2 linked regions of the Homo sapiens genome follow. The protein of the gene in region 1 purifies or fractionates together with the protein of each later gene. This does not show direct contact. Each region holds a gene or a part of one and is shown on either strand. Other genes may lie near its edges.

Region 1 (3,824 bases):
CCAAGATAGTTTTGAAAGGACTATACTTATTACCACCTAGAGATTTTAATCACTGTTAGTAGCATTATCCTTTAAAATAAAATTCATAAGTTTACTCTGTTATCAGACTACTCATTTCAATTTAATTCATCAGACAGATATTATGCTCTTACTATCTGGTACTATTTGGGCCTGGGAATACCAGAGCAAGTAAGTTCCTTGTTCTCAAGTTTGAGGTCAACATAGTTGTTTTAATATAATTTAATCTGTATAATAAAGAATGTTTTTTCTTTAAGAACATGTTCATATGTTATTCTGACATTTACTTTTCAGGTTCTTGTCACAATCTATGCTGATTATATTGCCCCTTTATTTGACAAATTCACACCTCTGCCTGAGGGAAAGCTTAAAGAAGAAATTGAAGTAATGGCAAAGAGTATTGACTTTCCTTTGACGAAGGTGTATGTTGTGGAAGGTAAGGCTACCTGGGGATAAGAAAGTTTTATCCAAGTGGTTTGTTTTATTTGATACTTTATTCTTAAAATTTTAATAAAAGAATTAATCAGTTTTTGTTTTTTTCTTTTTAAAATTTGTTATTTAAAGGCTAGGAGTTTACCTTTTGGCTTTTTAAGATTTACAGAAATTGATAACATAGGCCAGGGATAGAAACTGGTGGCTTGATACCAAATCCTGCTCTTGTCTGCAGCTATGTTTGTTTGGTTTTACAGTATTGTTTTAAATTTTTGGCCAAGGCTTTTTCACTCTCTGTTATGTTATCTTATATATTAGACTGATTTATTCACTTCTGTTATCTGCCTAGTTCTTTTAGGTAGTTAAGTTGGACTCTTGAATAGTCAAATTCTGTTTAGTATTAGTTTGGAGGCTCTTAAACAAAGCCAGTGTTATTGGCCTTGTCTCCTCCAAGAAAATATCCAGTGTTCTGGAGGACTCACCTGAAGATTGATTACCAAAGACTGCAGTACCACTGAGTACTGCAGATTTGTTATACTCTGCTTTTTTGATGATTACTTTTGAGATTTAAGTGGTCTCTTGACCGTTACTCAAATCTTGACTTCCCATTAACACCCAGTCTATTACTTTCTTTGAGACTTTGGTAGTTGACTATTAAAGTCTCAAAGAAGACTACGGAGATGTAGAGAGAAACTGTTGTAAGGTTCTATGACTTTCAGAATTTATAAAGTCCATATAAATGAATGTAATAGTTCTGTTCCTGCCACTTACCAGTTATAGGATCTTGGACAAGTGACTTCACCCTTCTGGGTTTCAGTTGTATTTCCTCTAAGCTATGGTTTCACAAATGTTTTTTGTAAAGGGCTAGATAGTAAATATTTTAGCTTTGCGGGCCACTTGTTCTCTGTTGCAACTATTCAGTGCTACTATTATAGCGCAAAAGCAGCCATAGACAATACTAAACAAATGAGTGTGGCTGTGTTCCAATAAAACTTTATGAAAATAAATGGCAGATTGGATTTGGCCTGTGAGCTACAGTTTGCTGATCCCTGCTCTAAAATAAAATATTACCAGTGAGAAGCAGCAGTGTTAGATGAAGGAATAGAAGCAGAAACAATCACAGGGTTAGAGGAGAACAGAGATGGTCACAACTGAAAAGAATGAATCAACAGCAACTGGAAGAACATAGAAATTTCAGACATCTGGCTGGGCGCTGTGGCTCACGCCTGTAATCCCAGCACTTTGGGAGGCCAAGGCAGGCGGATCACCTGAGGTCAGGCGTTCGAGACCAGCCTGGCCAACATGGTGAAACCCTGTCTTTACTAAAATACAAAAAATTAGCTGGGCGTGGTGGTGCGTGCCTGTAATCCCAGCTACTTGGGAGGCTGAGGCAGGAGAATCGCTTGAACCTGGAGGTGGAGGTTGTGGTGAGCCAAGATCAAGCCATTGCACTCTAGCCTGGGCAACAAGAGCCAAATTCTGTCTAAAAAAAAAAAAAAAAAAAAAATATATATATATATATATATATATATATATATGTCAGACATTTAGTGGCTCCTGAGGATATACAGCCCAACTAAAGGCACGATTGGAGTAGCTTAAAAGTCTGTGGAGAAATGGTAGAATAAGCCAGTTCATACTTACTTCTTTAGCCTCTGAAATAACTACTCTTTTTTTTTTAGGTAATATTAAACTAGAAATTTAATCATTAATCAGTACAACAGAATAGTCTCTAAGCTGCTTTTACTGAAGGAGCAACCTAAGTTGCTGATCCCTTAAGTTACAATCAGATAACGTGAAATAATAGTTAATGCTATGACAGTGGAGGTAGTCAATAGAATATGTGAAATATATCGGTGCTATTTTCTTTTTATCTTTTTTTTTCCCCCTACAACATCCAGAGTATGAGAGCTATTTTCATTTTAGATAAAATAGTCAGGGAAGGCTTTATGGAAGGTTATGACCTGAGCTGGGTGTTAATGGGAAGTCAAGATTTGAGTAGGTTGGGGGCAGCATTTCAGACGTCAGGCTTCAGGGTCAAAAGGCTTGGGTTTGAATCATAGCTCTACCACAGATTACCAGTGCTGGGCTTGGTGGCTCCAGCCTGTAATCCCATCTACTGGGGAGGCTGAGGTGGAAGGTCAGGAGTTCGAGACAAACTACTTGTGTGACTTTGCGCAACTTAGCTTTGCCAAACAGCAGTTTACTCACCTATAATGTATGTTTTAATTGTTGTTAACAACAGTAACAATTCTCAAAAATATTTTGAATGAATGAATGTTGTTGCTGACAATAACAACACACATTACATATTTGTAAATTGGTAGGGAGATTGTAGTGAAAAGCCAAGAATCTTGCTCTCAAAATATTATCAGATAGCAAGTGCTATGCAGCAAATTAAACTAGTTTGGTCTGATAAGTTGATACTGTAGATTGGTCATCAGATTGAGCTGAGACCTAAAGGGAGGAGCCGCCCATTTGACGTCAATGGGAAGATGTTCAAGGACCATGAAGAAGTCCAGTGTGGCTGCACCATAGCAGGAGAGTGTTAGGAGATGAAATCTGAGACATAGGCAAGAATCAGTCCACATAGGCCTTTGTAAGTCAGGGTAAGGAGTTTGGATTTTGAGTTCAGTGGGAAGAGCCATTGAAGGCTTAGACAGGAAAGTGACATGATCTGCTTTGTGTTTTTAAAATATCCTGGGCTACTGTATGGAGAATATGTTGTAGAGACAGGCAAAAGTCTAGGTAGGACATAATGGTAGCTTAGACTAGGATAATAGTAATTAATGGAGAGAAGTGGATACATTTGGGACAAGTTTTAGGGTAGAGTTGATTGAATTTTCTAATTGATTGCATTGGGAGAATAAGGGAAAGAGTGACATCAAAGATAATGGCCTAGACTTTTGACCTGAGCAGTTAGATATATGGTAGTTTCCTGAGATGGAAAAAAATAGGAGAAGAGTAGGTTTGTGGGGAATTAAGACTTCTAATGGCTATATTACATATTGAGGAACCTACTAAACATTGTATTAGAATTCTGCAAGCAATAGAAACCAACTGTGGCTGATTTAAGCAGAAAAACTGCTTATTGAAGCACTATTTGGACCAGGCGCAGTGGCTTATGCTTGTAATCTCAGCACTTGGGGAGGCCGAGGTGGGCGGATCACTTGAGGTCAGAAATTCGAGACAAGCCTGGCCAACATGGTGAAACCCTGTCTCTACTAAAAATACAAAAAAAAAAAAAAAAAAAAAAGCCGGGCGTGGTGGCGGGCGCCTGTAGTCCCAGCTACTTGGGAGACTAAGGCAGGAGAATTGCTTGAACCCAGGAGGCGGAGGTTGCAGTGAGTCAAGATCGTGCCACTGCACTCCAG
Region 2 (3,824 bases), on another chromosome or scaffold:
TGAGCTCTTGGGCTCAAGTGCTCCTCCTGCCTCAGCTTCTTAAAGTGTTGGGATTACAGGCATGAGCCCCCGTGCTCAGCCTATTGTTGTTTTTGAATACTTTTTAAAATTGTGGTGAAATACATACAACATGAAATTTTCATTTTAACTATTATTTTGGTGTATAGTTCAGTGGTGTTAAGTACATTCTACTGTTGTGCAACCGTCACCACCATCCATTTCCAGAACTTTTTCATCTTTCTGAACTCAAGCTTTGCATCCATTAAACAATGATTTCTGTCTCCCCCTTTCCCCATCTCCTGGCAACTGTCACCATTCTATTTTCTATGAATTTGACTGTTATAGGTACCTCATATAAGTGGAATCATATAGTATTTGTTCAATTTGTAAGTAATTTACTTCATTTAACATAAAGTTTTCAAGGTTCATCTACATTGTAGCATGTGTCAGAACTTGTTTATTTTTTGAGGCTGAATAATATTCCATTGTTTTTATATGCCATGTTCTGTTTATTCATTCACCCATTGTTGGATATGTGGGTTGTTTTCACCCTTTTACTATTGTGAATAATGTTGCTGTGAACACTGGTGTACAAATATCTGAGTCCCTGCTTTAAATTCTTCTGCGTGTATACCCATGAGTGGAATTGCTGGATCATATGATAATTCTGTGTGTAACCTTTTGAGGAATCACCAGACTTTTCCACAGTGATTGCACCATTTTACATTCCTACCAACAGTACACAAAGGTGTCGGTTTCTCCACATCCTCGCCAATATGTGTTTTCTGTTTTTTTAATAGTAGCCATACTAATGGGTATGTAGTGGTATCTCTCATTGTGGTTTTTGATTTGCATTTCCTAATCTTAGTGATATTGAGCATCTATTCATGTGCATATTGTTTGTTTGTATATCTTCTTTGAAGAAATGTCTATTCAAATCCTTTGCTTGCTTTTTTTTTTTTTTTTTTTTAAATTTTTTCCAGACAGGTTCTTGCTCTGTTCCCCAGGCTGGAGTACAGAGGCATGATGATCATGGCTCACTGCAGCCTCAACTTCCCAGGCTCAAGTGATTCTCCTACCACAGCCTCCTAAGTAGCTGGGACTACAGGCACACACCACCGTGCCTGGCTAATTTTTAAATTTTTTGTAGAGATGAGGTCTCACAGTGTTACTCAGGCTAGTCTCGAACTCCTGGGCTCAGGCAATTTTCCTGACAGCCTCCCAAAGTGCTGTCATTTTTTGTTGTTGTTAGGAGTTTTAGGTGTTTTTTATATATTCTAGGTATTATTCCCTTTCAAATACATGATTTACAAATATTTCCTCCTTTTTGTGGGTAGTCTTTTCATTCTCTTGATAGCGTCCTTTGTTGCACAGTAGTTTTTAACTTTGATGAAGTACAGTTTAACTACTTTTTCTTTTATTGCCTGTGCTTTTGGTATCATGTCAAAGAAACCATTGCCAAATCCAGTGTCCTGAAGCTTTTCCCTATGTTTTCTTCTAAGAGTTTTATAGTTTGAGGTCTTTGATCTAGTTCAAGTTAATTTTTTTATATGGTTTAAAATAAGGATCCAGCTTCATTGTTTTGCATGTGGATATCTGGTTTTCCTAGTGCTATTTATTGAAAAGACTGTCCTTTCCCTATTGACTGATTTTGGCATCCTTGTCGAGGGTCATTTGACTAAGTATGTGAGGATTTATTTCTGGGCTCTCTATTCCATTCCATTAGTCTGTGTATCTGTCTTTATGCCAGTTCCACACTTTTTGATTTGCAGTAAGTTCTGAAATTTGACTCCCCCAGCTAATATTATTTTGGCTGGGCTCAGTGGCTCATGCCTGTAATCCTAGCTCTTTGGGAGGCCGATGGGGGTGGATCACTTGAGGCCAGGAGTTCGCGATCAGCCTGGCCAACATGGCAAAACCCCCCATCTCTACCAGAAAACTACAAAAATTAGCTGGCATGGTAGTACACACACCTGTAGTCCCAGCTACTCACAGCTACTCAAGAGGCTAAGGCAGGAGAATCGCTTGAACTCGGGAGGCGAAAGTTGCAGGAAGCCCAGATCACACCACTGCACTCCAGCCTGGGCAACAGAGCAAGGCTCTGTCTCAAAAAGAGAGATTCTTTTGATGTTAGATTCCATATGAATTTTTGGATAGATCTTTCTATTTCTGCAAAAATTGTCATTGGGATCTTAAGGGGACAACCACTTGTTTTTAACTGATTTTTCTGCATGGACCTCCTTGTGCCATAGCAGCACAGCTATTTGAGAGTTTAAGGCTCTATAAAATGTTTAATTAAGGCTTCTATAGGGTAGTATGCATTATAAAATCTGAAATGATCCAGCCTGGATTTAGATTATGCAAGTTTCTTTGCTTGTATCTTCTCTTTTGGTAAGAAAGAACATACCTAGAAAGTAGACAGCCTCCTTTAGGGAGGAAATAGTATTTGACATGGATATGTCTTGGGAATTGCGTTTCTTTTGCTAGGTAATCTAAGAATTTGTGTAGGCTTTTAGTATGGAGTAGTTTTAGGGTGACTGCTTTAAAACTTCAAAGCTATAGAAATGACCCTCTAAATTGAGAGAATAAAGTCACTTTTAAAGACTGTTAAGCCGTAATTCATGGTAGTATGTAAAAGTAAAATTTTATTTCATTTTAGCATGCCAATGAAGATGTGGAAAGAATGTTACTAGGAAACAAGTGTGATATGGACGACAAAAGAGTTGTACCTAAAGGAAAAGGAGAACAGGTAAAAATCTGAATTAAACTGATACTCTGCTCTGTCTTTGTAAAGGTAATGCTACTTTTGATTATTTTTATAGTAATAGTGATCGAACACACTAAGCTAATTACATAGTTTTTAAAATGCTTGTTGGAAATAATATTTTATCATTTGAGTGAATTTTTTTTCAGTGCATATTTAACATGTATGGGAGAATCAAATGTGCCCATAGTATTTTTAGCCTTATTTAAACTACAAAGAGAGAAAAATATAAGTCATTAATCCTCGGTTTTTAAACTTAGGACTTTAAGGAAATGTATCAATTAGTATGGTTCTAAAATGTGACAATCAGGAGCCTATGGTGAGCAGAAATTAGACCCTGAGGAGTCAGGTTGAGCTTCTCATAAGTTTGCCCCCAGTGTGAAGTATCTGACTTAGAATATCTGAAATAAACTTTTGGGGTAAGGAGATTACTTTTCTTTTGTTTGTTTTATGAAAGAGCTTGACTTGCTGAAATATTCTGTGTTATATATTCTAGTTGGGACCACTGCCTTCAGAATAAGATTAATATTTAAGCTGTTAAAGTCAGCAGTTGGCAACCCATGCTTGATAATTTTATGATGATATTTTGTTTCTGTTTTAGATTGCAAGGGAGCATGGTATTAGGTTTTTTGAGACTAGTGCAAAAGCAAATATAAACATCGAAAAGGCGTTCCTCACGTTAGCTGAAGATATCCTTCGAAAGGTAAGTTCCTGTTTTTATATCCTGCCAGGTACCTGAGTATCTCTGTTGAATATTTTGTCTATTCTGAAGTACTGGATTTACATACAGAATTTGAGTTTGGGTGGTATTGTTTCTGTAGGGCAGCAGTCCCCAGCCTTTTTGGCACCAAGGACTGGTTTCATGGAAGATAATTTTTCCATGGACCGTACTGGGGGGTAGTTTCACCCAGAAACTACCCCACCTCAGATCATCAGGCGTTAGATCCTCCTAAGGAGCACGCAACCTAGATCCCTTGCATGTGCAGTTCACAGTGGGGTTTGCACTCCTATGAGAATCTAATGCTATCACTGATCTGATGGGAGGCGGAGCTCAGGTAAT

Evidence for each region.
Region 2: the proteins of ZMPSTE24 (region 1) and RAB10 fractionate together in Homo sapiens (co-fractionation; one large-scale study listed by BioGRID). This does not show direct contact.

The regions. Positions count from the first base shown.
Region 1 is NC_000001.11:40,271,582-40,275,405, forward strand, and holds part of ZMPSTE24 (CAAX prenyl protease 1 homolog), read left to right. Parts: intron 1-312; coding exon 313-454; intron 455-3,824. UniProt on the Homo sapiens protein: Transmembrane metalloprotease whose catalytic activity is critical for processing lamin A/LMNA on the inner nuclear membrane and clearing clogged translocons on the endoplasmic reticulum.
Region 2 is NC_000002.12:26,124,485-26,128,308, forward strand, and holds part of RAB10 (ras-related protein Rab-10), read left to right. Parts: intron 1-2,659; coding exon 2,660-2,749; intron 2,750-3,365; coding exon 3,366-3,467; intron 3,468-3,824. UniProt on the Homo sapiens protein: The small GTPases Rab are key regulators of intracellular membrane trafficking, from the formation of transport vesicles to their fusion with membranes.